Regions from separate parts of the Homo sapiens genome. Here regions 1, 2 and 3 are each linked to region 4. The links come from fine-mapping of genetic effects on gene expression. A gene starts in region 4. Each other region holds a variant in brackets. All regions are shown on one strand. Distances are from middle to middle.

Region 1 (5,847 bases), 830 kb after region 4:
CACTTTGGGAGGCCGAGGCGGGCAGACCATCTGAGGTTGGGAGTTTGAGACCAGCCTGACCAACATGAAGAAATCCCGTCTCTACTAAAAATATAAAAATTAGCTGGGCGTGGTGGCGCATGCCTGTAATCCCAGCTACTTGGGAGGCTAAGGCAGAAGAGTCACTTGAACCTGGGAGGCGGAGGTTGCGGTGAGCCTTGATTGTGCCATTGCACTCCGGCTTGGGCAACAAGAGCGAAACTCCGTCTCAAAAAACAAAACAAAACAAACAAAACAAACCAAGAGTTTGTCCTTAGTCTCTTTTCCTGGGGAATACAGGGACATCTAAAGGTTTAAACCTATACCTCTCCTTTGAGAGTTAGAGCCAGCCCAAGCAACTGACCTGAACCACACCTCCCACCCTGTAATGCAAATCAAGCAGCTTAGGGAGTTTACCACAGGGCTTGAAATGAAATGTAAATTCAACAAATGTTTGCCTTCTCTCTGCAGAGGAGTGTTATCTTTTCTCCTAATAATTTCTGGTTTCTCAATGACTGGGTCTAACACTGACTATGGTTCACCCTGTTGCATATTTCTTTAGAGGTCCTTCACTAGGGGGTTCGGAAAGTTTAACAAACTTCTCCCGCCAGGCTGAGGAAGGAAAATTGCTTGAACCTGGGAGGCAGAGGTTGCAGTAAGCCAAGATCGCACCATTGCACTCCAGCATGGGCAACAAGAGTGAAACTCCGTCTCAAAAAAAAGCAAACTCCTTCTTACGAAAGGCTGAAGGGCAATCTCCAAAAACCACCAACTCCCATTTCCAACAGCAATACTACTACTACTACCACCACAGGATGAGTATCCTTAATCCAAGATGCTCCAAAATTTGGAACTTTTTGAGCACTCACATGATGCTCAAAGGAAATGCTCACTGGAGCATTCTGGATTTCAGATTTTTGGATTAGGGATGTTTAACCAGTAATTATAACACAAATATTCCAAAATTAAAAACAAAAACAAAAAACCTGCAACACTTCTAGTGCCAAGCATTCCCGGTAAGGAATACTTAACCTGTATTATAAAAACAGAGCTGCTGTCTTAGCTCCCCAGTGACAGTGACTTCCTCTTTCCCCAAGGTCAGCTTCACTTCTGGATACTTTTTTTGAGGTGGGGTCTCACTGCATCACCTAGGGGGAATGAAGCGACGCAATCTTGGCTCACTGCAACCATGGTCTCCCAGGTTCCAGTGATTTTCCTGCCTCAATCTCCTGAGTGTCCGCGACTACAGGTGTGCACCACCACAGCTAATTTTTGTATTTTTAATAGAGATGGGTTTTCCCCATGTTGGTCAGACCTCCTGACCTCTTGTGATCAGGTTGAACTCCTGACCTCAAGTGATCCACCCACCTTGGCCTCCCAAAGTGCTGGGATTACAGGCGTGAGCTACCACGCCCCGGCTTTGATTCTTTAGTTATGCCACATACTCCAGCTTCTCCTGCTGATTCCTGCTGGCTTCTCCATCAAAAATCAGTTTGTTTCCTCCTTTTCCCTCTCAGCACTTTAAGCGTGGGCCTGCCTCTTTCTATTCTCTCTTCATTTCCTCCCTAAGGCTACCTCAGACCACTAGGAACATCTGGCTCCTGAAAGGTTTAGCCAGGGTAATCGCCTAGCTTCCAAATCCTAAGATTCTGAGCCATAACCTGTAATGCGGTTTCGCATTACTGTACATCAGACAGCTACGGCAGCAGAAACAGATCAACAAACACTCATGTTTTACCCAACAACATATACCTCAGCCTTTCCATCACATTTACAAAGTTAAAAAAAAAAAAAAAAGAAATGGTAGTATAAAGTACTTATGTACCTGGAAAACAGGCAGTGGTTTTTAAATTGTCCCATGAAAATCAACATTTGAATACAACTTTTCATTTTAATAAAATTAGTTAAGTATTTTATATATATATTAAATGTCTGCAAGCCTTCAACCAAAAGCCACCTATGTCAAGGGCACTTTCATGCCCACAAGTAGACTGGATGGCAAATTATATCTGCCTGATGAGAGAGAGGAAGCTTGAGCATAAGATCTACAAATTGTGTTGATGACCAAACAGGAGTCGAAACTGATACCAACCAACACTGATCTTCTAAGTCATTTTTTAAAGGCCTCTGCATTAAGTAGAAACCGAAACTGATGCAGCCAGTATCATTACATTAGGATACACGTCACAAAAATGAGGTCAACTGGATTTGAATTCATCAGTGCAAACATGAAAAGTATTTGCTGGGCTAACAGCTATGTAAAAGGAATCCTTTAACTCAAGAGCAGGCCAGGCACGGTGGCTCACGCCTGTAATCCCAGCACTTTGGGAAGCAGAGGCGGGCGGATCATGAGGTCAGGAGATCGAGACCATCCTGGCTAACACAGTGAAACCCCGCCTCTACTAAAAATACAAAAAATTAGCCGGGCGTAGTGGCGGGCGCCTGTAGTCCCAGCTACTCGGGAGGCTGAGGCAGGAGAATGGCGTGAACCCAGGAGGCGGAGCTTGCAGTGAGGCGAGATCGCGCCCTGCACTCCAGCCTGGGCGACAGAGCGAGACTCCGTCT[CA/C]AAAAAAAAAAAAAAAACAAAAAACAAAAAACTCAAGAGTAACACTTGGAATAAGTATCCAAAACACAGTGTTGGCTGGGTGTGGTGGCTCATGACTGTAATCCCAGCACTTAGGGAGGCTGAGGTGAAAGGATTGCTTAAACCCAGAAATTACAGGTGGTAGTAAGCTATGATCCCACCTCTGCACTCCAGCCTAAGGCTCTGTCTCAAAAACAAACAAAAAAAACCCATCACACCTGCCTTGCATTTCACTACCTAAGGAGTAGTAACTGGCTTACTGGTACTTCTCTGACACAGAATCACTGTTAATATTGAATACCTTTCATGTACAAGTTCAATGCTATCAGTCAGTCCAGAACCCATAGAATTTTTGTCCCTGATGATTCCTGCCACCCCATCTTATCAGCTGGATCTCAAGGTCACAGACCAAGCAAACATCCAGTTGTGGGAAAGGGTGGTAGTAGAAGGGCTCAGTTTGTGAATATAATCTTTCTAGGATGCACTTCTAACAAATGTGCTAGCTCAACATATCTATGTGAATTGAGATGGAAAAACACTGCATCTGGAGACTCTAGGTTACGATGTGGTCTAGGGGAGGGCCACAGGGACAACCCTTTGCTGATATCCCTATAATCATATTAGCAAATGCCAAGTACCTGAAGTTCCTTAACCACCTCTTCACTCCAAACCTGAAACCCGTCCTGGCAGCAATGATGAGCACAAAAGGAAGGTGAAGGTAAAGATTCAAAACCTTTTCTGACTTGAAACCCTTTACTGAACTGATATTTTCAAAGCTTTTTTTTTTTTTTTTTTTTGAGACGGAGTCTCACTCTGCCACCCAGGCTGGACTACTGTGGTGTGATTTTGGCTCACTGCAACCTCCGACTCCTGGGTTCAAGTGATTCTCCTGCCTGAGCCTCCTGAGTAGCTGGGACTACAGGCATCTGCCACCACGCCTGGCTAATTTTTGTATTTTTAGTAGAGATGAGGTTTCCTCATGTTGGCCAGGACGGTCTTGATCTCTTGACCTTGTGATCCACCCGCTGTGGCCTCCCAAAGTGCTGGGATTACAGGCGTGAGCCACTGTGCCCAGCCTATTTTCAAAGCTTTAAGAACTGTGTTTTGTCAATAGTCAAATCGAAGTATACCTTTAATTAAACAATCCAAAATGGGTCACAAAATGTGTAAAATACTGTAAAAATAATCTTTGTTCAGCACATTTTAGTTTTAGGAAAGTTATTGCCATTCTTCCTGGGTGTGGATATGCCAGAAGGAGAAAAACTATAATAATTTCAAAAACTAATTATTTACGTATTGCAAGATTCCATTTGCATGCAATATTCTCTAGAAAAGACAAAAAGTAGATTAGTGGTTGCCTGGGGACTATGGTGATGGTCGCATAACTCTATAAATTTACTACAAATCGCTGAATTGTACACTTTTAACAGAATAATTTTATGGAATGAAATTACATAATAAAGTTGCTTAAAAAAACTATTTGGAATGGTTCTCAGATTTCTACTAAGAATTAAGTTATCTGTGAATACAACAATTTAAATCTTAAAGCAACCATTACCATGATCATTACTTCCTAATCTGATCATCACATCATAAAAGAATCCAAGACCTTATTTTATTACAGCGGCAGTGTTATTTTTCTACCCAAGAGAGAAAAAACTGGCTGGGCATCATGGCTCACGCCAGTAATCCCAGTACTTTGAGTGGCCTAGGCGGGCAGATTCCTTGAGCCAGGAGTTTCAGATCAGCTTGGGCAACAAGGTGAAACCCCATCTCTTCAAAAAAATACACAAATTAGCCAAGCGTGGTGATGCATGTCTGCAGTCCTAGCTACCTGGGAGGCTGAGGCAGGAGGATTGCTTGAGCCTGGGAGGCAGAGGTTGCAATGAGGTAAGATGGTGCTACTGCACTCCAGCCTGGGCAACAGAGTGAGACTCCGTTCCCCCACCCCCCTAAAAAAGCTAAGCTAAAAACAAGTTGATGAAATAGAAAACATGAGAGATGATACCACTGCATCTAAACTCTCACAATTCCTAACAGAAGTATGTGATAATTGTTTATGATAAATATCTTAATTTCAATAACTCTTCCTTAGATATAGAAAAGTACTTACATTCATCATAAAATCCATAAATTCTGTTGATGCTGGCACATTCATGGTTCCCTCTGAGAAGAAAAAAATTCTCAGGATATTTTATTTTGTAGGCCAGTAAGAGGCAGATCGTCTCCAATGACTGCTTTCCCCTGTCCACATAGTCCCCAAGAAACAGGTAGTTGCTTTCTGGTGGGAAACCACCGTACTCAAAAAGTCGCAGCAAATCATAGTATTGTCCATGGATGTCACCTGGAAGCAAGAATTTTGTTACACAGTGTTCCCATACTTAAAGCTCAATCCACTAACAAAGCTTTGGAAAGACATTCTTTAAATATTCATTGTACAATGGCATTGACCTCTAGTAATGAGAGTTTAACTGGGCAGCCAACACTAAGTAATTTCCAATCTTATATCATATTTAGTTCAACTGAGCTTAACAAAAATTTTAAGTATATGTGTATGTCCAGAACCTCACATAAAATTCAACTATTAAGAATTTATTCTGTGGAAAGGGTTATTATGTCCAAGCATGCATTCTTGCCAAGTAACATGGTATCCCTTTCAGGCTGACTGATCAATATCAGATCTCTGACAGCTCAGTCTCTGGGTACTGTGTCAGCAGAACTGCTGCACTTCTAGTGAGTCTTGGCCCCATCTGAACAAAAGCACATACACACATACACACCACCCCCACCCCCCACCCATCAATGCATTTAGCTTTCAATTTCTCCCTGCTAGATAATGCCAAAGAACATTTTACTTTTAAAAACATGAACACAAAGTTTTATCAATGCAAATATGCTATAAGAATATATTACTCAAACGAATAAAGTTTGGTTTTACATTGAGTTAAAACACAGATTATTTGCTTCTATTATGCAGAAAACAGAACCACAAAATCAGTATCAAGGAAGTTCTATTTTTAGCTATAACCAGTGTTGCTTTAAACTTAAACATATTCCTATACATCCATGTAGTTCAGACCTTTCCTCAGCTCTCCATTCTTAGTTTCATTTTTTTCTTTTGCAATGTTTATTCCTTCAGCAAAATATTTTTTTTAAAAATCTGAAGTACATCTAAGTAAACTAAGTCCATTAGAGGTATTTATTCTAAAGCTACTATTTAACTTACTTTTAAGTAGTTCCAAGCT
Region 2 (5,847 bases), 160 kb before region 4:
GTGGCGTGTGATCTCAGCTCACTGTAAGCTCCGCCTCCCGGGTTCACGCCATTCTCCTGCCTCAGCCTCCTGAGTAGCTGGGACTACAGGCACACGCCACCACGCCTGGCTAATTTTTTGTATTTTTAGTAGAGAGGGGGTTTCACCGTGTTAGCCAGGATGGTCTCGATCTCCTGTCCTCGTGATCTGCCCATCTCGGCCTCCCAAAAGTGCTGGGATTACAGGTGTGAGCCACCACGCCCGGCCCCCATTATTACATATTTCTATCAGACAGCACTGGTATAGGGTATTTAGGTAGAGGCAAAACCATAAGTGCAAAGGCCCTGGGGTGGGGACAGGGTTGGCTTGTGAGAGGACCAGAAAGCAAGCCAGCGTGTCTGAGCAGGATCAGCCTGGGACAGGGACAGTGCAGATAGACATTGGGAAAGGGATTCACAGAGGTCCTTCAAGGATATTGTTAGAAAAGCCACGGAAGACTGGCGGGATGGCTCATACCTATAATTCCAGCACTTAGGGAGGCTGAAGTGAGAAGGTTGCTTGAGGCCAGGAGTTCAAGACCAGCCTGGGCAACATAGCAAGATCCCACATCTACAAAAAATAATAATTAGCTGGGTGGGGTGGTGCACAACTGTAGTCCCAGCTACTTGAGAGGTTGAGGCAGGAGGATCACTTGAGCCCAGGAGGGAGCTGCAGTGAGCCATGATCATGCCACCGTACCCCAGCCTGGGTGACAGGGCAAGACCCTGTCTCCAAAAAAAAAAAAAAAAAAGCTATGGAAGCCACTAGGTGAGCTCTACGCAGGAGAGATGTGCGCTACACACAGAAAGGCTTGGTCTGGCTCCCTTGAGGTGGAGATTGACGGCAGGGGGGCGATGGGGCACAGGGACGGGCAGGAATCTGTTGTAGAAGAGTTGCTGCCGGGACCTGCTGGTGAATTGGCTCCACCGGATCCGGCTCCGCAGAAAGCTCACTGCTTCCTGTGGCTCCTGGATTTCCAAGCCTCTGGGGTTTCCTGTCTCTCCCGGCACCCGTCTCCACCTCCCCAGCAGCTGTTCCCTGTCATGTCGGTGCATTTACAATGAGCGCCAGTCGCCTGTCTCCAGGTGGTCAGAGGTTGAAATCCCTTTTGAAAAGTTCTTTAAAAAAAAAAAAAAAGAAAGAAAGAAAAACCAGAAGTCATGCATGTTCATTGTGGAAAAATTAGAAATACAGAGAAGCACAAAGAAGAAAAGGAAAATTCCCCAGTTAACCGTCAGCCGCTAGGCTATGACAGGGGGAGGGGGTTGAACCCAGGTGGTCTGGCTCCAGCACTTTCTAAATCACAGTGCCTGTGGCCGGATGACATGGAGGGAGCTCCCTGACCATAGGAGGGGTTAGAGACACGACGCCCCTCTACCCTCACTCACAGCAGAGGTGGAAAGCTGGAGACTGACCCACACATGGGTGGTGAGTGGCGTTTGACTCTTGGAGATTTAAATAAAACAAACATTGAGAGAGCTTATGAACTCTGGGATGTGGAGTGGTGGCGCTGTCATTTGGGCCGAGTGTCCTGTCCTGTTTCCTAACCCCTGCCTCGAAGGCTCCATTCATTTCTGCCCCAGCCTGACCCCCAGAAGCATCTACTGATCTTAGCATTGGGCTAAAAGCTAAGGCCAGCCCTTGCCAGCCACTTTTGTCCACTCTCCTCCCCCGACCTGGGCCACTGCGTCTTCTAAACACTCTTGGGTCATTCTTGCACAAGGACCCAGTCTTCTTCCTCCCCGTCCCTTGGGGCCTGAATCCTCAAACCCTGTCTGGCCCAGGCCAACCTCTTCCGTGGGGCTTTCCTGCCTGCTCCACCAACCAACCCCGTGGTCCTGGACAGCTCCCTTCCCTCTCTGTTTCCTCGTGGGTACAACGCCAATCATGTCTTTCTCCCGGTTGTGGCGTGGGTTACGTGAGGTGACGTCTGTAAAGTACTGAGCCTGTGGAGAACACTAAAAATAAAAGCTAGCTCTTATTGCTCTTACTATTAGATTTTTCTCCTTCCCCGTTGCCTGCTTTAACCCTGAACTGTGGGTGCAGGGACTGGGGGAATAGGTGGGAGGAAGGCTAGAGATACCGGGCCCCTCCCATCTCCACTGTGGGTCTTACCTTTGCCCGTTGCACACAGTGTTCCGTCTTCCGGGATCCCAGTGTCATCTGGTGGCATCCCTCCTTCCCTCTTTTGGTCTCCATTTCCATGTTGTTTCTCCAGAGAGATTCTATGACCACTTCCAAAAAAAACTGGGCGGGGGGCTTTCGGCTGAGCTCACAGCCCCATTATGACATCGTAGTACTGAAGCTGTTCAGTATCGATTCTCAGATCTCCCCACTCATTCTTTGCTGGAAGGTGATGACGGAGTCTTACTTGACTGACAATTTTCATTAAAGAGCCGAGGCTGGAACTAGGAGAACAGAGGCTCAGCCTGCCCCTGGCTCCAAACTTTGCACCTTGGGATCCCTGGCTCTCTGGGAAGAGTGAAACTGCCCTTCAGAGGTCCATGGCTCTGGGAGAGGGCCAGCCAGGCCTGTTGCCAGTGGCAGTGACTGCCCCTCCTTCTGGCACCTTCTCTGAGTCCCTGTCCTGAACTAGCACTAGTGCAGAGGAAACAGATCTCCCCGCTCTGAGGTTGGGGGGGTCCCTGCCTGGCCCTGCATAGGTGAGGTGCTCTCAGTGACTCACCAGGAGGGTTTGCTCTCCAGCAGCCTGGAGCTCCTTCATGTTCTCTGTTTGCTCCTCTCTCTCAAGTCTCCATGTGGTGGCCTGTGCAGTCCCTTCTGTGGGATCCTTCCCTTCCCCTAGCTTTTTCCTACTTACCTGTTGATAGCGACCATAAACAATGCTAACAACGGGTACCACTTAGGCAGCTACCACAAGGACCCTGGCACTTTGTTGTAAGGAATTAACCCCTTTTGCAGACGCAGAAACTAAGGCTCAGAGAGGAGGGAGGGATTTGCCTAAGCTCACAGAGTTAGGGTGTAAAGCTCAGACATCCGGATGTGAAGTCGGGGACAGACACTGTCGCTCTGCTAATGAGGCAGCTGGTGTGTCCTTACATCATGACCCCCCCAGGCCAGGTAGGGTGACCCCAACATGGCCACCGCTTGTCTCCCTGCCTTGTAATTACCCCTCTGATGCCTCCCATCCACTCAGGGTCTGTCACTGCCCCAGCATCTAGCACAGGGCCTGGCCTGGCACATAGTTGGTGTTTAATCTGTCATGCCGTCCCCAGTGGTTGGAGTGCTGACGGAGGCACATCGCAGTTGTCAGTTCCCATGGCGACTGACATCACTATGCTCTCAGGCTGTACCCCGCCCCTTTCTCCAGGGCTCTTGCGCCGGGAGCTGGCCGTGGTGCTGACAGGCCCAGGAATGGCCACCTACCCCCAGACCCCAGCTGTGTGTCCCAGTAGGACACTTCCTGAGGCCCACCCTGCCCCAACTCCCTAGGACAGCCTCTTGCCCATCCTTTGTTCAGGAGACGTTTTCCTGAGGGCCCTGTGCTCAGGCACTGCTGTAGCACCGTGAACCCATAGAGGAAGGATCAAGGAGAGCCACATGGGACTCCAGTCATTTGA[C/T]GATTCATCAAACATTTATTATGTACCTTGTATGTCTTGGAGAAGCCCTCAGGAACCCGGACTCCAATTGAAGGTCGAGTTGAGTTTTAAGGGGTAGAGAGCCAGAAAGGGCTTTTGAGCAGTCCTTCTGCTCAAAAGTCCTTCCTGGCTCTTGGGATTGCATGGGCCAAAGCCTGCAAGTGTGCAGGTGAGAGTCTTGTGCAGAGGGAAGCCCACCTCAGGACTCTGGCTGCCAGCCAGAATTGGTGATTGTCACTTTACTTTTTGGTCTCCCCTTTGGCTCAGAACTGCCAGCATCTCTGGCTCTAGTGCCCAGCCCAGAACCAGGCACAATGGAGGGGTGTTGGAGCCAGGCAGGGGACTGGCATCTTTGTCCTAGAAACCAAAGAGCCAGGTATGCTCTGTGACAAGATTTGCAGCATTTTAGAGAGCCCCTGGCCTGCTGGGGTGGGGACAGATACAGTGGTAATTCTGGCAGAAGATGAGGCCTCCTATTCAAGGGGACAGTACCTCCCCAGCCCCCAACCTTAAAAAAAAAAAAAAAAGGTAAAAATCCCCTTCTGGTGCTGAGGCCCAAATGGCAGTGGGAAATAATCACTTTTCACAGGCCCCTTATCCACAGCCAAGCCCTGTGCCAGTTTAATCAGCAGTGCCGGTGTGACTTGAAGAATCCCCGGCTTGAGAGATCAGGAGAGGGGTTAAAGAAAATTACCCTCGCCTCCTCCATGCTAATGTAATCTCTAACCAGATCTGCCTAGCCGCAGCTCAAATTGCTTTTTAGATTAACATTTAATTATTAACAGGGTCCCTTGGAAGGCCTCCGGCTCAGAACAGAGATGGGGGAGGGAGCGGCAGGAGGGAGGTGGGGATGGGCTTCTACTCTGGCTGCCTTGCTGAGACAAGCGGGGTGGGAGAGAGAGGAAGGAGCAAGGGAAGAGGGGTCAGGAAGGGAGAAAGAGAGAGAGACAGCAGGAAGGAGAAGGGAGGCATCAGGACAGGAGGCAGGTGGAGCTAAGGACAGGGATGTAGACAGAGGAGAGGAAAGAGACAGACAGTGGATCTTCCTGTCGTGGGAGCCCCTAAGGGGGTTGGGGGAAGCTTGCACCTAGATTCCTGAGGACATTCCTGGGCTGGGCAAGGGTCCCTCCACTCTTCCTGGCCAGAAGCAGGTTTGCTGCCCCTCATTATTTAGAGAGGTCTGGACTTTCTGAGGCTTTCTACTTGCTCAGCTCGTGGTGCTGGGGACCAACACAGAGAAGTGACCCATTTAGGGCCACACCACCAGGGTCTGACCCTAGTATTCCCAATCCAGCATTCATTCTCTTCCCCGGGCCCTGGGCCTCTCACCACCATTTCAGGCTCCTATCTGCCTTTGGAGCAGGCTGTGTGGCCAGGCAGCGTGAAGAGACTTGAATTACAGCCAGAGGGATGGAGGTGAGAACTGTGGGAGGGCTCCCTCACCACCCACCTATCCTGCCACCACCCCCAGGAAGGCTGCGAGGCCCTGAGGAGTGGCCAGCATCTCATTCACTTCCTGAAAGGGAATTCAGAGTCTGAACCATCTACTCTACTCCTTGCATGATGAACTGCTGGGTTTTGCCAGCTTCCTATCTTGTCCCTGCTCGAGATTCTAAGTCCCTCAAAGACAATGGCTACGTCTAGAGCCCCTTTGTGTGCCCACAGTTCAGGGACTGCCCCACACCTTGTACACAGCTGGATTAAGTTTGGAAACCAAATGATCACATCCTCTTATGTCCAAGTTAGATGGCCCTCATACTATCAGCTGGTCCACTCCCCATAAAGGTTCATTTGGGAAACAGACTCAGAGAGGTGCTGTGACTTCCTCCAGGTCACCCAGCCAGTGAGAACCCCAGTGCCTGGCCCCTGCCTGGCAGGTACAACCCAGAGGCCTCTGGGGCCAGCTCTCTTCTCTGAACTAGTCCTGTTGGACACCAGGAAGGGCCTGGCATGACCTTCCCCTCCAGGTCACAGCTAGGCTTTGGCCTTGAATGGAGCCACAGAAGCCAGGTGGGTAGCTCTAGGGATTGGAGGTAGAGGAGGAGATGGGGGCTCAGAGGCGCAGCCCATGGCTTTCCCGGGGTCACAATCTCAGGGCCCTGCCGTGAAGCCAGGTGTGTCCTCCTCCTATTCTGCCTTGGGGTCAACCCAGCCTGGCAAGGGGCAGACTGCTGACCTGTGGACACGAGGGAAAGTTCCAGATGCCTGCCACATCAGGAAAATGCTGGAG
Region 3 (5,847 bases), 71 kb after region 4:
GTTTTTTCAGTAAAGATGGGGTTTCTCCACGTTGGTCAGGCTGGTCTTGAACTCCTGACCTCAGGTGATCTGCCTGCGTCGGCCTCCCAAAGTGCTGGGATTACAGGTGTGAGCCACTGTGCCCAGCTTATTTATTTATTTTGAGTCAGGGTCTCACTCTGCCCCCCATGGCTGGAGTGCAGTGGCGTGGATCTCGGCTCACTGGCAACCTCCACCTCCTGGGTTCAAGCGATTCTCATGCCTCAGCCACCTGAGTAGCCAGGACTACAGGCGTGCACTGCTACACCCGGCTAATTTTTTTATATTTTTAGTAGAAACAGGGTTTCGCCACATTGCCTAGGCTGGTCTCAAACTCCTGGGCTCAGGTAATCCACCTGCCTAAGCCTCCCAACGTGCTGAGATTACAGGCGTGAGCCACCGTGCTCGGCCTGAGTTTTTAAAATTCTTTGAATATTCTAAATATGAGTAATTTGCTGGATATGTGATTTCCAAATACCTGTATTTTTCTCCCAGTCTGTTGCTGGTCTTTTCACTTTCTTAACTAGTTTTCTCAGAACAAAACTTTTCCTTTTTTTTTTTTTTTTTTTTTTGAGATGGAGTTTTGTTCTTGTTGCCCAGGCTAGAGTGCAATGGTGCAATATTGGCTCATTGCAACCTCTGCCTCCCGGGTTCAAGCAATTCTCCTGCCTCAGCCTCCCAAGTAGCTGGGATTACAGGCATGCACCACCATGCCTGGCTAACTTTTTGTATTTAGTAGAGATGCAGTTTCACCATGTTAGTCAGGTTGGTCTTGAACTTCAGACCTCTGGTGATCCACCTGCCTTGGCCTCCCAAAGTGCTGGGATTACAGGTGTGAGCCACTGCACCTGGCCAAAAATTTTCAATTTTGATGAAGTATAATTTATCAATATTTTCTTTTATGCATTGAGTTTTGGTGTTATATTTAAGAGGTTTCTTTTTCCCCCTTGCAGAGGCAATGTCTTGCTCTGTCACCCAGGCTGGAGTACAGTGGCATAGTCATAGCTCACTGCAGCCTCGACTTCCTGGGCTCAAGTGATCCTCCTACTTCGGCCTCCCAAAGTACTAGGATTACAGGCGTGAGCCACCATACTCAGCTGATAGCTAAAAGCTTTCATCCAAGATCACAAAGATTTTCTCTTATGTTTTCTTTTTTTTTTTGAGACGCGGTCTCACTCTGTCGCCCAGGCTGGAGTGCAGTGGTGTGATCTCGGTTCGCTATAACCTCCGCTTCCTGGATTCAAGCGATTCTCCTGCCTTAGCCTCCTGAGTAGCTGGGACTACAGGCATTCACCACCATGCCTGGCTAATTTTTGTATTTTTAGTAGAGACGGGGTTTCACTATGTTGGCCAGGCTAGCCTCAAACTCCTGACCTCAGGTGATCCACCCGCCTTGACCTCCCAGAGTGCTGGCATTACAGGCATGAGCCACCGTGCCCGGACCTCTTACATTTTCTTCTAGAAGTTTTACAGTGTCAGGTTTTACATTTAGATCTATGATCCTTTCTAGTTTCGGGGTAAGGTGTGAGGTTTAGGTTGAAGTTCACTTTCCTGCACATGGATGTCCGGTTGTCCCAATGCATTAAAAAGAATATCCTGGGGCGGGTGCAGTGGCTCATGCCTGTAATCCCAGCACTTTGGGAGGCCGATGCGGGCAGTTCACGAGGTCAGGCGACCAACACCATCCTGACTAACACGGTGAAACCCCATCTCTACTAAAAATACAAAAAATTACCTGGGTGTGGTAGAGTGCGCCTGTAGTCCCAGCTGCTCGGGAGGCTGAGGCAGAAGAATCACTTGAACCCGGGAGGCCGAGGTTGCAGTGAGCCAAGATCCCACCACTGCACTCCAGCCTGGGTGACAGAGCAAGACTCCGTCTTAAAAAAACAGAAAACAACAACAACAACAAAAAACTATCCTTCCTCCACCACTGAACTGATTACCTTTGCACTTTTGACAAAAATCAATTGAACATATTTGTGTGGATCTATCTCTGGATTCTCTATACTGTTTCAATGGTCTATATGTCTATCTCTTCATAGATATCACAGTCTTGAGAACTGTACAGCTTCATAGCAATTCTGAAAAATTGGGTGCTGTACTTCCTTCCACATTATTCTTCTGCAAAATTGTCTGGGCTACTCTAGTTCCTTCACCCTTCCATTTGAATTTTTAAATTATTATTATTATTTTTGGAAATGAGGTCTCACTCTGTTGCCAAGGCTAGAGTGCAGTGGCACGATCATGGCTCACTGCAGCCTCAACCTCCTGGGCTCAGGTGATCTTCCCACATCAGCCTCCTGAGTAGGTGAGACCACAGGCATGCACCATCACACATGGCTAATTTATTATTTGTAGAGATGAGGTCTCACCATGCTGCCCAGGATAGTCTCAAACTCCTGGGCTCAAGTAGTCCTCCCGCCGTGGCCTCCCAAAGTGCTGGGATTACAGGCGTAAGCCACTATACCTGGCCTCCATTTGAATTTTAAAATCAGCATGTCTATGTCTAATAAAAAATCCTCAATTGAAGTAAATTTATACATTTATTAACTTGTGGAGAATTGACATGTTATTGAGTCTTCATATCCATAAGCACAGTACATCTCTCCACTTATTCAGGTCTTCATTGATTTCTTTCATCAGCAGTTTTTGGCATATAGATACTACATGTATTGTGTATTTCATTAGATTTATACCTAAGTATTTAATTTGGAGCTTTTTAATTTTTTTGAGACAGAGTCCCACTCTGTCGCTCAGGCTGGAGTGCAGTGGCAAGATCTCAGGCTCACTGCAACCTCTACCTCACAGGTTCAAGCGATTCTCCTAACTCAGCCTCCCGAATAGCTGGGACTACAGGCGCCCACCACCATGCCCAGCTAATTTTTGTATTTTTAGTAGAGACAGGGCTTCCCCATGTTAACCAGGCTGGTATCGAACTCGACCTCAGGTGACCCACCCCCTTCTGCCTCCCAAAGTGCTGGGATTATAGGTGTGAGCCACTGTGCCCAGCCAATTTGGAGCTTTTATTACTGGTATTGCTTTTCTAGATTCAGTTTCCAATTGCTCACTGCTAGTCTAAAGAAATGTGATGGATTTTTGGCAGGGTGCGGTGGCTCACACCTGTAATCCCAGCACTTTGGGAGGCCAAGGTGGGTGGATCACCTGAGGTCAGGAGTTCCAGAGCAGCCTGGCCAACATGGCGAAACCCTGTCTCTACTGAAAATACAAAAAATTAGCCAGGCATGGTGGGGGGCACCTGTAATCTCAGCTACATGGGAGGCTGAGGCAGGAGAATTGCTTGAACCC[G/A]GGAGGCGGAGGTTGCAGTGAGCCGAGATCACACCACTGCACTCCAGCCTGGGTGACAGAGCAAGACTATCTCAAAAAAAAGGGAAAAAAAAATATATATATATATATGGATTTTTGGCTGTTGACCTTGTATTCTTGCAATCTTGTTTAACTCAAGGTTCTGGAAACCTTTTTGTAGGTTCCTTGTGATTTTCTACATAGAAATCATCTCATTTGAATGGGGACAGTTTGATTTCTTCCTTTTCAATCTGTATGCCTTTTATTTATTTTTCTTGCCTCTTGGCACTGGTTAGGATTTCCAGTGTGATGTAGAAGAGAAATGGTAAGAGTGGACACCCTAGTCTTTCTCCCAATTTGAAAGCAAACACAGTCTTTCATCATTAAATAGATACTGTTTATCAGATCAAGGAAGTCTCATCTATTCCTAGTTTGCTAAGAGTTTTTTTAAAACATGAATGGATGTTGAAGTTTGTTGAATGCTTCTTCTGCATCAACTGATATGATTACATAGTTTTTCGTTTTTACTGTTAACTTGATAGATTACATTAACTGATTTTTTTTTTTTTTTGAGACACAGTCTCGCTCTGTCGCCCAGGCAGGTGAGCAATGGCGCAATCTCAGCTCACTGCAACCTCTGCTTCCCGGGTTCTAAGTGATTCTCCTGCCTCAGCCTCCCAAGTAGCTACATGCATGCACCACCATGCCCAGTTAATTTTGTATTTTTAGTAGAGACGGGGTTTCACCATGTTGGCCAGGCTGGTCTCAAACTCCCGACCTCAGGTGATCCACCCACCTTGGCCTCCCAAAGTGTTGGGATTACAGGCGTGAGCCACTGCACCTGGCCTGATTTTCAAATATTAAATCAGTCTTGCCTATCTGGAAATCCCACTTGGTTATGTTGCATTTTTCTCTATTTTTTTTTGAGACAGGGTCTCACTCTGTCACCCAGACTAGAGTACAGTGGTGCGAACACAGCTCACTGTAGCCTTGACCTCCTGGGCTCAAGCAATCCTCTCACCTCAGCCTCCAGAGTAACTGGGACTACAGGCACGTGCCATCAGGCTAGGCTGATTTTTTTGTTGTTGCAGTTTTGTAGATGGGGTCTTGCTATGTTGCCCAGGCTGGTCGCAAACTCTTGGCCTCAAACAATCCTCCTACTTCGGCCTTTCAAAGTGTTGTGATTACCACTGTGAGCCACTATGCCTGGTCTGTATTACTATTATTATTATTGTTATTATTAGAGATGGAGTCTGACTCTGTCACCCAGGCTGGAGTGCAGTTGCACAATCTCAGCTCACTGCAACCTCTGCCTCCCAGGTTTAAGCGATTTTCCTGCCTCAGCCTCCCAAGTAGCTGGGATAACAGGCGCCCACCATCATGCCCAGCTAATTTTTGTATTTTTAGTAGAGACGGAGTTTCACCATGTTGGCCAGGCTGGTCTCTAACTCCCCACCTCAAATGATCTATCTGCCTCAGCCTCCCAAAGTGCTGGGATTACAGGCATGAGCCATCGCGCCCGGTCTGCTTTGTATTTTTTTTTAATTATCCTTCCATGTCTGTGGGGTTTATAGTGACAACTCCATCTGTACACTCTCCTTTTTGTCAGTATTGCCAGACATTTATGAGTTTTACTAATCCTTCTGAAAAACCAGCTTTGGTTTCATTGATTTTTCGCTACTGTTTCCTTCTTTCAGTTTCATTGATTTTTCGCTACTGTTTCCTTCTTTCAGTTTCATTGATTTCTGCTCTTTACTATTTGCTGCCTTCTGTTTGGTTCAGGTTTATTTTGCTCTTTTTTTTTTTAAAGTTTCTTAAGGGAGGAGCTTATATTAATAATTTGAGGCTAGGCGCGGTGTCTCACGCCTGTAATCCCAGCACTTTGGGAGGCTGAGGCAGGCAGATCATTTGAGGTGGGGAGTTAGAGACCAGCCTGGCCAACATGGTAAAACTCCATCTCTACTAAAAATACAAAAATGTGCCAGGCATGGTGCTGCATGCCTATAATCCCAGTTCCTCAGGAGGCTGAGGCAGGAGAATCACTTGAACCTGGGAGGGGGAGGTTGCAGTGAGCCAAGATCACATCACTGCACTCCAGCCTGGGTGACAGAGCAAGACACCATCTCAAAAAATAATGATGAGAATGATTTGAGACCTTTCTTCTTTTCTAAGGTAAGAATTTAATACTATAAAGTTTCCTCTAAGCATTGCTTTGGCTGCATCCCAGAAATTCTGATATGCTGCATTTTCATTTTCATTCAGTGGAAAATATTTTTTCCCTTAAGACTTCCTCTTAGATCGATGGATTAGTTAGAAGTGTGTTGTTCAGGGCCGGGCACGGTGGCTCACACCTGTAATCTCAGCACTGTGGGAGGCTAAGGTGGGTGGATCACCTGAGGCCAGGAGTTGGAGACCAGCCTGGTCAACATGGTGAAACCCCATCTCTACTAAAAATACAAAAATTAGCTGGGTGTGGTAGCACGTGCCTGTAATCCCAGTACTAGGGAGGCTGAGACAGGAGAATTG
Region 4 (5,847 bases):
AGAATGGAGGCTGTAATCTGGGGACTTCAGGCTTCCAGGATCAGGCCACTTAGGAATGGTTGCCCTCCGGCATGCTGGTCGAGCCCTAAGCCCTAAAGTTCTGCTAGTGGAGCTTATCTGGTCATTATACAGATGAGGAAACTGAGGCCCAGAGAGTGGAAAGGCCTTGCCCAAGAGGCACAAAATCAGGATCAGGTCTCCCTTACCTTGCCCCAACTCACATATTTCTTTTTCTTTTCTTTTCTTTCTTTCTTTCTTTTTTTTTTTTGAGACAGGGACTCCCTCTGTTGCCCAGGCTGGAGTTCAGCGGTCAGATCTCGGCTCACTGCAACCTCTGCCACCTGGGTTCAAGTGATTCTCATGCCTCAGCCTCCCGAGCTGGGATTACAAGTGCATGCCACCACACCTGGCTAATTTTTGTATTTTTAGTAGAGACAAGGTTTCGCCACGTTGGCCAGGCTGGTATCGAACTCCTGACCTCAAATGATCCACCTGCCTCAGCCTCCCAAAATACTAGGATTACAGGCGTGAGCCACCACGCCTGGTCCAATTCATGTGTTTATGAAGTTCCTGTCGACAGACATTTATGTGTTGGTCTCCTTTGTTGGGTGGGCATCTCTGCTAAGTGACTGCAGTGGGCTGCTGCCACCCCTCTGCACTGGGGACACAACATGAAAGAGTGGCCATGAATTTGCCCAAGGGGGTAGGGATTAATGGGAGGGAAACTTGAGGACTCTTATGCACGCAGTGGGACAGACCCTGATTAAACAGGTGCCAACTAAAGGGGGATGTGAAGGAAGGCTCAAGTTTGGGCTCACCTGGGATGCACTGGATGCTCTACTCCTGGGCATGCTCCATTTATTCTCACACGGGCAACCCTAGAAAGCTGCACTATTTTTTGTTTTGCTTTGTTTTTTGAGACAGAGTCTTGCTCTGTTGCCCAGGCTAGAGTGCAGTGGCATGATCTTGGCTCACTGCAACCCCCGTCTCCTCGGTTGAGGCGATTCTCCTGCCTCGGCCTCCCGAGTAGCTGGGACTACAGGTGCCTGCCACCACGCCCAGCTAATTTTTATATTTTTAGTAGAGACGGGGGTTTCACCATGTGGCCAGGCTGGTCTGAAGCTCCTGACCTCAAGAGATCCGCCAGCCTTGGCCTCCCAAAGTGCTGGGATTACAGGCATGAGCCACCAGGCCCGGCCTGAAAGTTGCTCTATTTTTACTCTCATTCCATGGACTAGGAAGCTGAGGCACAGACAGATGAAGTGACCTGCCCAAGACTACACCAGCATGGTATAGCTTGAAACCTGGGCGTTCTGACTGTAGAGACCATGTTTTGAGACAGGGTCTCACTCTGTCACTCAGGCTGGAGTGCAATGGTGTGATCACGGCTCACTGCAGCCTCCTTGTCCTGAGCTCAAGTGATCCTCCCACCTCAGCCTCCCAAGTTGCTAGGACTATAGGTGTGCACCACCACAGCCTGCTAATTTTATTTATTTATTTATGTATTCATTTATTTATTTAATTTGGAGGTGGAGTCTCACTTTGTCACCCAGGCTGGAGTGCAGCAGCGCAATCTTGGCTCACTGCAACCTCTGCCTCCCAGGTTCAAGCGATTCTCCTGCCTCAGCCTCCCGAGTAGCTGGGAGTATAAGCATCTGCCATCATGCCCGGCTAATTTTTGTATTTTTAGCAGAGACGGGGTTTCATCATGTTGGCCAGGCTGGTCTTCAACTCCTGACCTCAGGTAATCCACCCTCCTGGGCCTCCCAAAGTGCTGGGATTACAGGCGTAAGCCACTGAACCCAGCTGAGGCCATGATGCTGCATCCAGGAAAAACAGAGATGAATAAAGAATGGAGAAATGAAGGGAAGAAGAAATGAAAGAATGGGAAAATGAAAGAAAAGAGAACAAACAAGTATTTTTCTTCATTTTCTTTTTAATGGAATAGTTGGCATGTAATACTTGTAGCACACGAGTTATAAAACATACTAATAGAATGAACACTTTTGAACTCACCACCAATATAAGACTATAATAGAAAGTTATCGGCCGGGTGCAGTGGCTCACTCCTGTAATCCTAGCACTTTGGGAGCCTGAGGCAGGCGCATCACGAGGTCAGGAGATCGAGACCATCCTGACCAATATGGTGAAACCCCATCTCTACTAAAATACAAAAAATTAGCTGGGCGTGGTGGCGTGCGCCTGTAGTCTCAGCTACTCGGTAGGCTGAGGCAGGGTAATCGCTTGAACCCGTAAGGCGGAGGTTGCAGTGAATCGAGATCACGCCACTGCACTCCAGCCTGGCGACAGAGCAAGACTCTGTCTCAAAAAAATAAAAAAGTTACCAATAACTTCCATCTACTTATGCCAGCAGGCCTCTGCCCAAGTTGTACATTGAACACACCTGGGGAATTTTGGAAAACACTGATACTCTCAGATGGGATTTGGGGTTTGGTTTGGGCATCTGGATTTTTTAAAGGTATCTGGATTTTTTCTTCTTTTTTTTGAGACAGTGTCTGGCTCTGTCACCCAGGCTGGAGTGCAGTGGCACAGTCATGGCTCACGGCAGCCTCGATCTCCTGGGCTCAACTGATCCTCCCGCCTCAGTCTCCCGAGTAGCTGGGACCACAAGTCCCACCATGCCCGGTTAAGTTTAAAAAATTTTTTAGAGACAGGAGTCCCTCTGTGTTGCCCAGGCTGGTATCTGGTGATTCTCACGCGCAGCCAGGTTTGAGGACCACTGACTTACATTCTCTTCCCCCTGGTTTCCACCTTCACCTTCACGTGATGGTAACCACCATCCTGAAATACGTGTAGTGCATGGACGGATTCTTTGCCTCCATGCTTCCCTATTTCAAGGAGCAGCGACGTTTGCTATTTATCTCCCGCTGGCCACGACGGGGCACCAGAGAAAAACACAGGCTCCCTACGCGCTGAAGGAGGCTTGGCCCTTGCGACGCTCCGTCGTCGGGCTCGTTGCCGGTGCAAACAGGGAGGAAACAGCCGGCGTTGCTGTAGCGCGTCTGGGAATTACACCGGGGGACTGGCCGGCCCGCTTCGTGCCTGCGGGAAGTCGGGCCGGGGGACTCTTCGGAAACTCCGAGCCTCAGAGAAATGTGAGTCGGAGGGTTGGACTAGGCCGGATCCGGCGTTAGGGCGGGGGCCCGCAGGCGGCCCGCGCGGGCGGGAACCGGGGCGGCAGTCAGCGGGCGCGAGCTCAGGGCGCCTCCGGGGTCCTCACTGCGCTCCCCACGCGCTGTGACCCCATTTGTTGCACGTGCATGTTCAGGTCGAGAGAGGGATGCGACGTGTTCGGGGAGCAGCCCACCTTGTGGGTGGCCAATCCGGGACGGGAATCTTAAACTTTTAACTCTTGGTGCAAAGACTGATCCACTGGCGGCTTTACGGGAGCGGGAAAAAAGTATGTGAAGCTTGCCACGGTCTCGAGACCGAGGTCACACGTTAGCAGCCTGCCGGCTACATTTGGACCATAGACGCAGAGTGTTTGCCCCCAAAACTGGAGGACCTCCAGAATGAGATTCTTGGCGTGCACCAGGCCTTTTCGCTCATTCAGCCGGCGTTCCTACCCAGGCACTGCATCGACCCTACACTTGAGGACAGCTTTTGGGTCAGGGGAATTGGTGCCTGGAGTGAGACTGCTCTCTGCTTTCAAGGCTCCAGCTGTATCCCTACATTGCTCAGGCAATTCCTCTCTCTAGGTCTCAGCTTCTTCATCTGCAAGATGAAAGGTCTGTCCTCCATGGTAGCCCAACATACTTCCGAGTGTTATTATCAGTCCCCTCCCCGGGGACTGCCAGAGCCAGGGCAGGTTGGTCCCAACAGGCAGCCCCTTGCAGCAGAGAGAGCCTGGGCTCTGGTCTCAGACGGACATGAATTAGGAACCCAGCTTGTTTATCTCCTTTACTTCCTGGCTCTGTGATCCTGAGCAAATCACTTTGTAATGCTTAACGTTGTTTTTACTAACCTTGTTTTTTAATGCCTTACCTTGTTTTTACTAACCTTGCTTTTAGACTCTTTTTTTCCCCTTAATCACCTAGCCTTGTTTCCACATGAATTAGCTCTCCCTTAGTTGAGAAAGCCGGATGAACTCCATCTGGTTCCCTCATTTACAAGACATCAAGGACTCCTTACCCACCCCTTTCCTCAAGGAGTTAACTTGTGTAAGCAGAATCTCAACATATCAAAGAGTCCAATTAACTGATAAGGTACTGAAACAAGCAATGTACGAAGTTCCCAGGATTTTGCTCAAAAGATAACACCATAAAACCTTGAGTTGGTGTCGGGCAGAGCACCCATATCTAACATTTTATGAAAGATTTAGAGCCCCTGCACCTGGAACTGTTGTTTCTCTGTAACCATTTGTCTTTTAATTGTTTCTCTGTGACTCTTTGTCCTTTTAATTTTTGCATGTTTTTACTTATGTAGAATTGTTGCATCTGAGCTCCCCTCCCCTTCCTAAACCAAAGTATAAAGGAAAATCAAGCCCCTTCCTCGGGCCAAGAGAATTTATTAGCCGTCTCTTGGGCACTGGCTAAATAAAGGACTCTTAATTTCGTCTCAAACTGTGGCGTTTCTCTAACTCGCTCGGGTACAACAACTTTACCTCTTCAACGTAAGTTTCCTTACCTGCCAAATAGCGAGGTGATTGTAAGAATGAAAAAAAGTCATATGTATTGAGTGCTTGGCACATACATGTGTTCCTTACATTATTGTCTCTGTTTAAGCACAGCATAAATGCCCCCGATGTGCCTAGTCTAGCAATCTTAGGACAATCCCTGTGTCTGTCTGTTGTGTTCCTGGTGATGGCTGGCCCACAGCTGGGTGCACGCAGTCCAGAATTTTTTATGTTTTTGTTTTTTTGAGACAGAGTCTCACTGTCACCCAGGCTGAGTGCAGTGGCGCTATCATGGCTCGCTACAGCCGTGACCTCCTGGGCTCAAGCAATCCTCCTGCCTCAGCCTCCTGAGTAGCTGGGACTACAGGCGCACCACCACTCCTGGCTAATTTTTGATTTTTTATAGAGATGAGTCTCATGATGTGGCTGGTCTCCAACTCCCGGCCTCAAGTGATCCTCCTGCCTCAGCCACCCAAAGTGTTGGGATTACAGGCATGAGCCACTGTGTCTGGCTAAGGTTTATTTGTTTTGTTTTGTTGTGTTTTGAGATGGAGTCTTGCACTGTCGCCTAGGCTGGAGTGCAGTGGGACAATCTTGGTTCACTGCAACCTCCACCTCCTGGGTTCAAGTGACTCTCCTGCCTCAGCCTCCCAAGGAGCTGGGATTACAGACGCCCACCAGCACGCCTGGCTAATTTTTTGTATTTTTAGTGGAGACAGGGGTTTCACTATGTTGGCGCAGCTGGTCTCGAACTCCTGACCTCGTGATCTGCCCACCTTGGCCTCCCAAAGTGCTGGGATTACAGGCGTGAGCCACGGCAAATTTAAAAGGATGATTTGCAGCACTAGTGGCAGATCATTTTAAAAAATGCTGGTGCCTGGGCCCTACTAAGTTTTTTGATTGAATTAGTTTGGAGTGGGGCTCAGACACGGTTTTGTTTGTTTGTTTGTTTTAAAGTTCCACCAGTTGATTTCACTGTGCAGCCAAGGGGTGGTGACCACTCGTTAAAGGGATGAGGCCAAGCTGGTGAGGGTTCCTGGGATTTGCAGTGGCTCACTTTCCTCCCATTCCTGTTCTCAGATGGCGCTCCCGACGCTGCCGTCCTACTGGTGCAGCCAGCAGCGCCTGAATCAGCAGCTAGCACGACAGCGAGAGCAGGAGGCCCGGCTTCGGCAGCAGTGGGAGCAGAACAGCCGTTACTTCAGGATGTC

Which allele goes with the higher level. Positions count from the first base shown, and alleles are read on the strand shown. Sizes are in standard deviations (SD) of each study's normalised expression. Not every link is listed here.
With allele T in place of C in region 2, the expression in whole blood of the gene that starts at base 2,964 in region 4 is lower (large effect, 1.9 SD a copy in Lepik 2017).

Evidence for each region. PIP is the estimated chance that this variant, and not a neighbour inherited with it, causes the effect. A credible set is the group of variants that fine-mapping cannot tell apart.
Region 1: its variant is the best candidate, but not a certain one, in a credible set for the expression of TCHP in whole blood (INTERVAL, PIP 0.78).
Region 2: its variant is the best candidate, but not a certain one, in a credible set for the expression of TCHP in whole blood (Lepik 2017, PIP 0.90).
Region 3: its variant is the best candidate, but not a certain one, in a credible set for the expression of TCHP in tibial nerve (GTEx, PIP 0.73).

What each region holds. Positions count from the first base shown.
Region 1 is chr12:110,725,814-110,731,660 of GRCh38, forward strand. PPP1CC (protein phosphatase 1 catalytic subunit gamma) reads right to left here. Exons shown (of 7, transcript NM_002710.4): 3 at 4,716-4,946. Among named protein-coding and RNA genes, the nearest start is that of PPP1CC, 14 kb to the right of the region's middle. The variant CA/C (reference allele first, on the strand shown) is at 2,584.
Region 2 is chr12:109,733,458-109,739,304 of GRCh38, forward strand. The region is part of intron 1 of FAM222A (family with sequence similarity 222 member A); the gene reads left to right. FAM222A-AS1 (FAM222A antisense RNA 1) reads right to left here. Exons shown (of 3, transcript NR_026662.2): 2 at 2,134-2,364; 3 at 752-1,136. Among named protein-coding and RNA genes, the nearest start is that of FAM222A, 23 kb to the left of the region's middle. RefSeq lists a silencer at 3,214-3,414, enhancers at 3,319-3,818, 4,322-4,466 and a cis regulatory region at 4,388-4,401. The variant C/T (reference allele first, on the strand shown) is at 3,600.
Region 3 is chr12:109,968,595-109,974,441 of GRCh38, forward strand. The region is part of intron 7 of GIT2 (GIT ArfGAP 2); the gene reads right to left. LOC124903013 (a long non-coding RNA gene) reads left to right here and starts at 4,843. Exons shown (of 3, transcript XR_007063456.1): 1 at 4,843-5,493. The variant G/A (reference allele first, on the strand shown) is at 3,325.
Region 4 is chr12:109,897,311-109,903,157 of GRCh38, forward strand. TCHP (trichoplein keratin filament binding) reads left to right here and starts at 2,964. Exons shown (of 13, transcript NM_001143852.2): 1 at 2,964-3,116; 2 at 5,717-5,847. The coding sequence starts at 5,717. RefSeq lists enhancers at 2,687-3,527, 3,528-4,368 and a silencer at 3,185-3,294.